2 linked regions of the Homo sapiens genome follow. The protein of the gene in region 2 interacts with the protein of the main gene of each other region in a biochemical or structural test. Each region holds a gene or a part of one and is shown on either strand. Other genes may lie near its edges.

Region 1 (3,500 bases), on a different chromosome or scaffold from region 2:
TGTTGGCCAGGCTGGTCTCCAACTCCTGACCTCAAGTGATTCTTCTGCCTGGGCCTCCCAAAGTGCTGGGATTCCAGGCAAGAGCCACCGCACCTGGCCTGGTATGGATTTTCTTTTAACTGCCCTGGGGCAGCCCCCAGAGCCATGCGAGCAAGGCACTGAGGGAATCAAATTGACCTTTTTCCCTCTGGCTGCTGTAAGAAATAAAGGTGGAGAAAGCAGTGAGATGATGGAGGCCAGGCCAGGGTGGGGGACTTGGAAGGGACAGATGTCCACAGTCGGGGCTATATGGCAGAGACACGGTCATCGGAGTTTCCTGGTGGGTTGAAGGGTGAAAGGCTAGCTCCCAAGTTCCAACACCTCATTCACCCCAGCACTGTCCCCACCCACAGCCCCCCTGCCCTCTGTCTGGGCACCTGCTTTGTACCAGGCCCAGGAGGTCAGTCCTGCAGGGGACACAGAGACAAATACCCATACCATGGCAGCAAACACTGGCACCAGATAGGTCCAGAGCATTGCAGGTACAGAGATGAAGGCAGCTGACCCCCAGGGAACTAACTACCCAGAGCTGGAGACCAGAAGCGCAGGCAGCCCGCCAGAATGAATGGTGAAGGGTTAGGCTGTGAAGAGGAGGGGAGGCTGGAGGAGTTGGCAGGGAACCGCTCATGGCCTTCAGTGCCAGGCGGAGGAGCTGGAACCTTGTCCTGACAGCAGTAGGGGGCTATGGGGAGATATATAGCAGGGAGGGTCATGACTGGAGTTCAAAAGAGCCCTTGGACTCCCAGGCGGAGGGTGGGCCTGAGCTGGGGGCACTGGAGGCTGGGAGCCCAGTGGGGACAGATCCTCCACCCAGTAACCAAGTGGCTTCTCTGGACCCAGTGACTCCCGTGGACTGTGGTGGCAGCAGCAGTGGCAGCAGCAGTGGAGGAAGTGGGACATGGAGCCGCGGTGGGCCCCCAAAGAAGGAAGAACTGGTCGGGGGCAAGAAGAAGGGACGAACGTGGGGGCCCAGCTCCACCCTGCAGAAGGAGCGGGTGGGAGGAGAGGAGAGGTGAGGTGTGGTGTGGTCATGCCCACCCTGTGCCCAAGCCCCAGCTCCCAGGCTCCAGGCCACAGGACTGAGGTCTCCATCTCTCCCTGGACCCCGCAGGCTGAAGGGGCTGGGGGAAGGAAGCAAACAGTGGTCATCAAGTGCCCCCAACCTGGGCAAGTCCCCCAAACACACACCCATCGCCCCTGGCTTTGCCAGCCTCAATGAGATGGGTAAGAGCCTGGGTTCTTGTAAGGGGGTGGGGGTTCCCTGGCCAAAGGGGTGAGCCTCCTGGGGCTGAGCGAAGAGACCAGGTTTCACTGGGCCAGTGAGTGGAAGGCCTTCCTGGGAAGGGAGATGGTGGCCCCTGGGGCGTGGGGGGTCATTTCCAGGGGCAGGGACCACCCTTCTCTGAGGCTTCTCCTGGAGACAGATTCAAGAACGATGCTCGTGGGTCTTGGTCTTGCTGTTGGAGGGGTCATCGGGGGCTGTCCCTTGGCACAAGTCCCCGTGGGGCCCTGGCCAGCCCTGCAGCGGAGTGATGGCCCTCTCCGGTTGCAGAGGAGTTCGCGGAGGCAGAGGATGGAGGCAGCAGCGTGCCCCCTTCCCCCTACTCGACCCCGTCCTACCTCTCAGTGCCACTGCCTGCCGAGCCCTCCCCGGGGGCGCGGGCGCCGTGGGAGCCGACGCCGTCCGCGCCCCCCGCTCGGTGGGGACACGGCGCCCGGCGGCGCTGCGACCTGGCGCTGCTAGGCTGCGCCACGCTGCTGGGGGCTGTGGGCCTGGGCGCCGACGTGGCCGAGGCGCGCGCGGCCGACGGTGAGGAGCAGCGGCGCTGGCTCGACGGCCTCTTCTTTCCCCGCGCCGGCCGCTTCCCGCGGGGCCTCAGCCCACCCGCGCGTCCCCACGGCCGCCGCGAAGACGTGGGCCCCGGCCTGGGCCTGGCGCCCTCGGCCACCCTCGTGTCGCTGTCGTCCGTGTCCGACTGCAACTCCACGCGTTCACTGCTGCGCTCTGACAGTGACGAGGCCGCACCGGCCGCGCCCTCCCCACCACCCTCCCCGCCCGCGCCCACACCCACGCCCTCGCCCAGCACCAACCCCCTGGTGGACCTGGAGCTGGAGAGCTTCAAGAAGGACCCCCGCCAGTCGCTCACGCCCACCCACGTCACGGCTGCATGCGCTGTGAGCCGCGGGCACCGGCGGACGCCATCGGACGGGGCGCTGGGGCAGCGGGGGCCGCCCGAGCCCGCGGGCCATGGCCCTGGTGAGTGAGGCGCCCTGCACCCAGGTCACAGAAAACCCCTTCTTTCCTCCTCTGCCAGGGTCGCAAGTCCAGCCCAGCCACGACCCCTCAGGCAGCCACCTCCTGCTTCTTGTGGAGGAGGGAGGGTCTGTGTCCCTTTACCGCTCACTCCTGGAGGCATCGGGGGTCTCCAGGGGACTGAGACACAGGCGGCAAACTGATGCCTATAAGGCCAGGCAGGTGCCTATAGCGGTTGTGACCAGCATGACCATCGCCAATTCTTACACAGCCTAGACACTGTTCTCCTCCATCTGTTAACTGGGTGGGAGATGCGGCCATAGCAGTGTTATTAAGTACCCACGTCAGGCACTGTGCTGCTTGTTTTAAGTTATGGTTATTCTATTTGCTCCTCACCTGCGTGGTGAGGCACCATTTTTATCCCCCTTCAGAGCTAAGCCATGCCTGAGCTTAGCCCAGTGCAGGAGAGTCGGGAAGACCAGGGCTTTGGCCCCCGAGGCTGCCGCTAAGCAGCAGTTCCAGAAGGTTGAGGAACATGCCAGGGTCCACCCAGAGGAGCAAGCAGCTGGGAGTGGTCCCAGTCTAGGTCAAGGTCCCAGCACTGCCACACTACAGATGGAAACTGGATGCAGCAAGATCCACGGATTTCTCGAGAGAAACCAGAACTTGTGCTTTTCATGTAACAGCTCTGGGCTTTTTAATGCCACCCTCTGCCCCACCCCACTCACCTCCTCTGAACCTCTCTTACCAGGCCCTCGTGACCTTCTGGACTTCCCCCGCCTGCCCGACCCCCAGGCCCTGTTCCCAGCCCGCCGCCGGCCCCCTGAGTTCCCAGGCCGCCCCACCACCCTGACCTTTGCCCCGAGACCTCGGCCGGCTGCCAGTCGCCCCCGCTTGGACCCCTGGAAACTGGTCTCCTTCGGCCGGACACTCACCATCTCGCCTCCCAGCAGGCCAGACACTCCGGAGAGCCCTGGGCCCCCCAGCGTGCAGCCCACACTGCTGGACATGGACATGGAGGGGCAGAACCAAGACAGCACAGTGCCCCTGTGCGGGGCCCACGGCTCCCACTAAGGCCTGCCCACCACCGCCCGCCTGGGCAGCCATGAATGTAGCGCCCCAGGCCCTGCCCCAGCCCGCCATGCCACAAGGTGGGGGAGGCCCTGGGCAGGATGTTCACTCTATTTATTGGGGAAGGAGGGAGGGG
Region 2 (2,971 bases):
GATGATGAATTTTCTCAGATGACCCTAAGAAATTGTTTTACCAAAAACAAAGTGATCTATTTGCTTTGGGAGGAACTCCCTTCCTTTTGTTTCTCTTCCCTTCCCCCCTTCCCCTGCGGTTGTAGAGCCCGTTCTGTCCGGTCGTGGTTCTGTCCAGCCATGATCCGGGAGTCCTAGCTTGCTAATGGAACACCTGAGATGTTCCTTATGGCTCAAGGCTTGAATTGAAGGTGGGAACCACCTGAAGCCTCCGTGGGGAGGCCTTGCCTGAGGTTAGGTGTCTGGCATGAGTGCCGCCGGCTGGGTGTGATTTAGGTGAAGGACATCTGTAAAGGAGCGTGTCACAACCTCTGTTCCTTCTTCACATCTAGTGGTATCCTGAGGTGCGGCACCACTGTCCCAACACTCCCATCATCCTAGTGGGAACTAAACTTGATCTTAGGGATGATAAAGACACGATCGAGAAACTGAAGGAGAAGAAGCTGACTCCCATCACCTATCCGCAGGGTCTAGCCATGGCTAAGGAGATTGGTATGGAATCCTGTGTTTTTCCTCCTCCTTGTACCTCTTTTATTGTAGTGACAGAGACTGGAGTCCAGTCTGGGAAAGGAGGGTGTGTGTCTCCCACTCAGGGCCTGGTGTACTCTTGGGGAACCAGCTGGCAAGGCCCTGTGGGTCTTAACGTCAGCGTTGGAAGGTGGAAGCAGGGCTGGGAGCCGGCAGAAGGCGCCCGGGCCCCAGGAGCTGCCTCCCGCTGGTGGTGTGATCAGAAGAGAGTGGGGTCGAGTGTACATTGCCGTGTGGTCGTGTTTCCTGTAGGTGCTGTAAAATACCTGGAGTGCTCGGCGCTCACACAGCGAGGCCTCAAGACAGTGTTTGACGAAGCGATCCGAGCAGTCCTCTGCCCGCCTCCCGTGAAGAAGAGGAAGAGAAAATGCCTGCTGTTGTAAATGTCTCAGCCCCTCGTTCTTGGTCCTGTCCCTTGGAACCTTTGTACGCTTTGCTCAAAAAAAAACAAAAAAAAAAAACAAAAAAAAAAAACAACGGTGGAGCCTTCGCACTCAATGCCAACTTTTTGTTACAGATTAATTTTTCCATAAAACCATTTTTTGAACCAATCAGTAATTTTAAGGTTTTGTTTGTTCTAAATGTAAGAGTTCAGACTCACATTCTATTAAAATTTAGCCCTAAAATGACAAGCCTTCTTAAAGCCTTATTTTTCAAAAGCGCCCCCCCCATTCTTGTTCAGATTAAGAGTTGCCAAAATACCTTCTGAACTACACTGCATTGTTGTGCCGAGAACACCGAGCACTGAACTTTGCAAAGACCTTCGTCTTTGAGAAGACGGTAGCTTCTGCAGTTAGGAGGTGCAGACACTTGCTCTCCTATGTAGTTCTCAGATGCGTAAAGCAGAACAGCCTCCCGAATGAAGCGTTGCCATTGAACTCACCAGTGAGTTAGCAGCACGTGTTCCCGACATAACATTGTACTGTAATGGAGTGAGCGTAGCAGCTCAGCTCTTTGGATCAGTCTTTGTGATTTCATAGCGAGTTTTCTGACCAGCTTTTGCGGAGATTTTGAACAGAACTGCTATTTCCTCTAATGAAGAATTCTGTTTAGCTGTGGGTGTGCCGGGTGGGGTGTGTGTGATCAAAGGACAAAGACAGTATTTTGACAAAATACGAAGTGGAGATTTACACTACATTGTACAAGGAATGAAAGTGTCACGGGTAAAAACTCTAAAAGGTTAATTTCTGTCAAATGCAGTAGATGATGAAAGAAAGGTTGGTATTATCAGGAAATGTTTTCTTAAGCTTTTCCTTTCTCTTACACCTGCCATGCCTCCCCAAATTGGGCATTTAATTCATCTTTAAACTGGTTGTTCTGTTAGTCGCTAACTTAGTAAGTGCTTTTCTTATAGAACCCCTTCTGACTGAGCAATATGCCTCCTTGTATTATAAAATCTTTCTGATAATGCATTAGAAGGTTTTTTTGTCGATTAGTAAAAGTGCTTTCCATGTTACTTTATTCAGAGCTAATAAGTGCTTTCCTTAGTTTTCTAGTAACTAGGTGTAAAAATCATGTGTTGCAGCTTTATAGTTTTTAAAATATTTTAGATAATTCTTAAACTATGAACCTTCTTAACATCACTGTCTTGCCAGATTACCGACACTGTCACTTGACCAATACTGACCCTCTTTACCTCGCCCACGCGGACACACGCCTCCTGTAGTCGCTTTGCCTATTGATGTTCCTTTGGGTCTGTGAGGTTCTGTAAACTGTGCTAGTGCTGACGATGTTCTGTACAACTTAACTCACTGGCGAGAATACAGCGTGGGACCCTTCAGCCACTACAACAGAATTTTTTAAATTGACAGTTGCAGAATTGTGGAGTGTTTTTACATTGATCTTTTGCTAATGCAATTAGCATTATGTTTTGCATGTATGACTTAATAAATCCTTGAATCATACGACTGGTAATACTGGTGTTTTTGAGACTTGATGAACAAGTTCCTGGTGTGTGTTTGTTTGCCTTGCTTTAAAGTCCTGGGTTGTTGGAGACAGTCATTTTCAATGCGTGTCTCCACACAGGAGGGACAGGGAGTGCCACCTCCAGGGGAGAACTGGGTGAGCCCAAATACGGCAGGAGTGGAGGTGACATTCATGTTTGGACCTGTCGAACAGTGGCGAAGCTCTGAGGGAGAAGCGCCTATCGGGGTGTGTGTGCACATCCTGGCCCAGAGCTAGGGGCTGAAGATGGAGATGTTGGGACCCTAGACTGGCCCTGGAAGAGTAGAGGTTGGTGAACCACATGCCCTTAAGATCCTTTCCAGAGGCTGAGTGCGTGGCTTACGCCTCTAAGCCCGACGCTTTGGGAGGCTGACACAGGAGGAGCGCTTAAGCCCAGGAGTTCTAGACCAGCCTGGACAAGAAAGAGACCTACCCAAAAAAAAAATGCAAGAGCCTGAAC

The links. Proteins that work in one complex are often made in the same cells at the same time.
Region 1: the proteins of RAC1 (region 2) and MAP3K10 form a complex in vitro, tested with the Homo sapiens proteins (one study listed by BioGRID).

Annotation. Positions count from the first base shown.
Region 1 is NC_000019.10:40,211,926-40,215,425, forward strand, and holds part of MAP3K10 (mitogen-activated protein kinase kinase kinase 10), read left to right. Parts: intron 1-879; coding exon 880-1,051; intron 1,052-1,150; coding exon 1,151-1,263; intron 1,264-1,463; coding exon of another isoform or gene 1,464-1,591; coding exon 1,592-2,296; intron 2,297-2,724; coding exon of another isoform or gene 2,725-2,741; exon of another isoform or gene 2,742-2,976; intron 2,977-3,044; coding exon 3,045-3,367; 3' UTR 3,368-3,500. UniProt on the Homo sapiens protein: Activates the JUN N-terminal pathway.
Region 2 is NC_000007.14:6,401,497-6,404,467, forward strand, and holds the end of RAC1 (ras-related C3 botulinum toxin substrate 1), read left to right. Parts: intron 1-371; coding exon 372-531; intron 532-819; coding exon 820-950; 3' UTR 951-2,471; downstream 2,472-2,971. UniProt on the Homo sapiens protein: Plasma membrane-associated small GTPase which cycles between active GTP-bound and inactive GDP-bound states.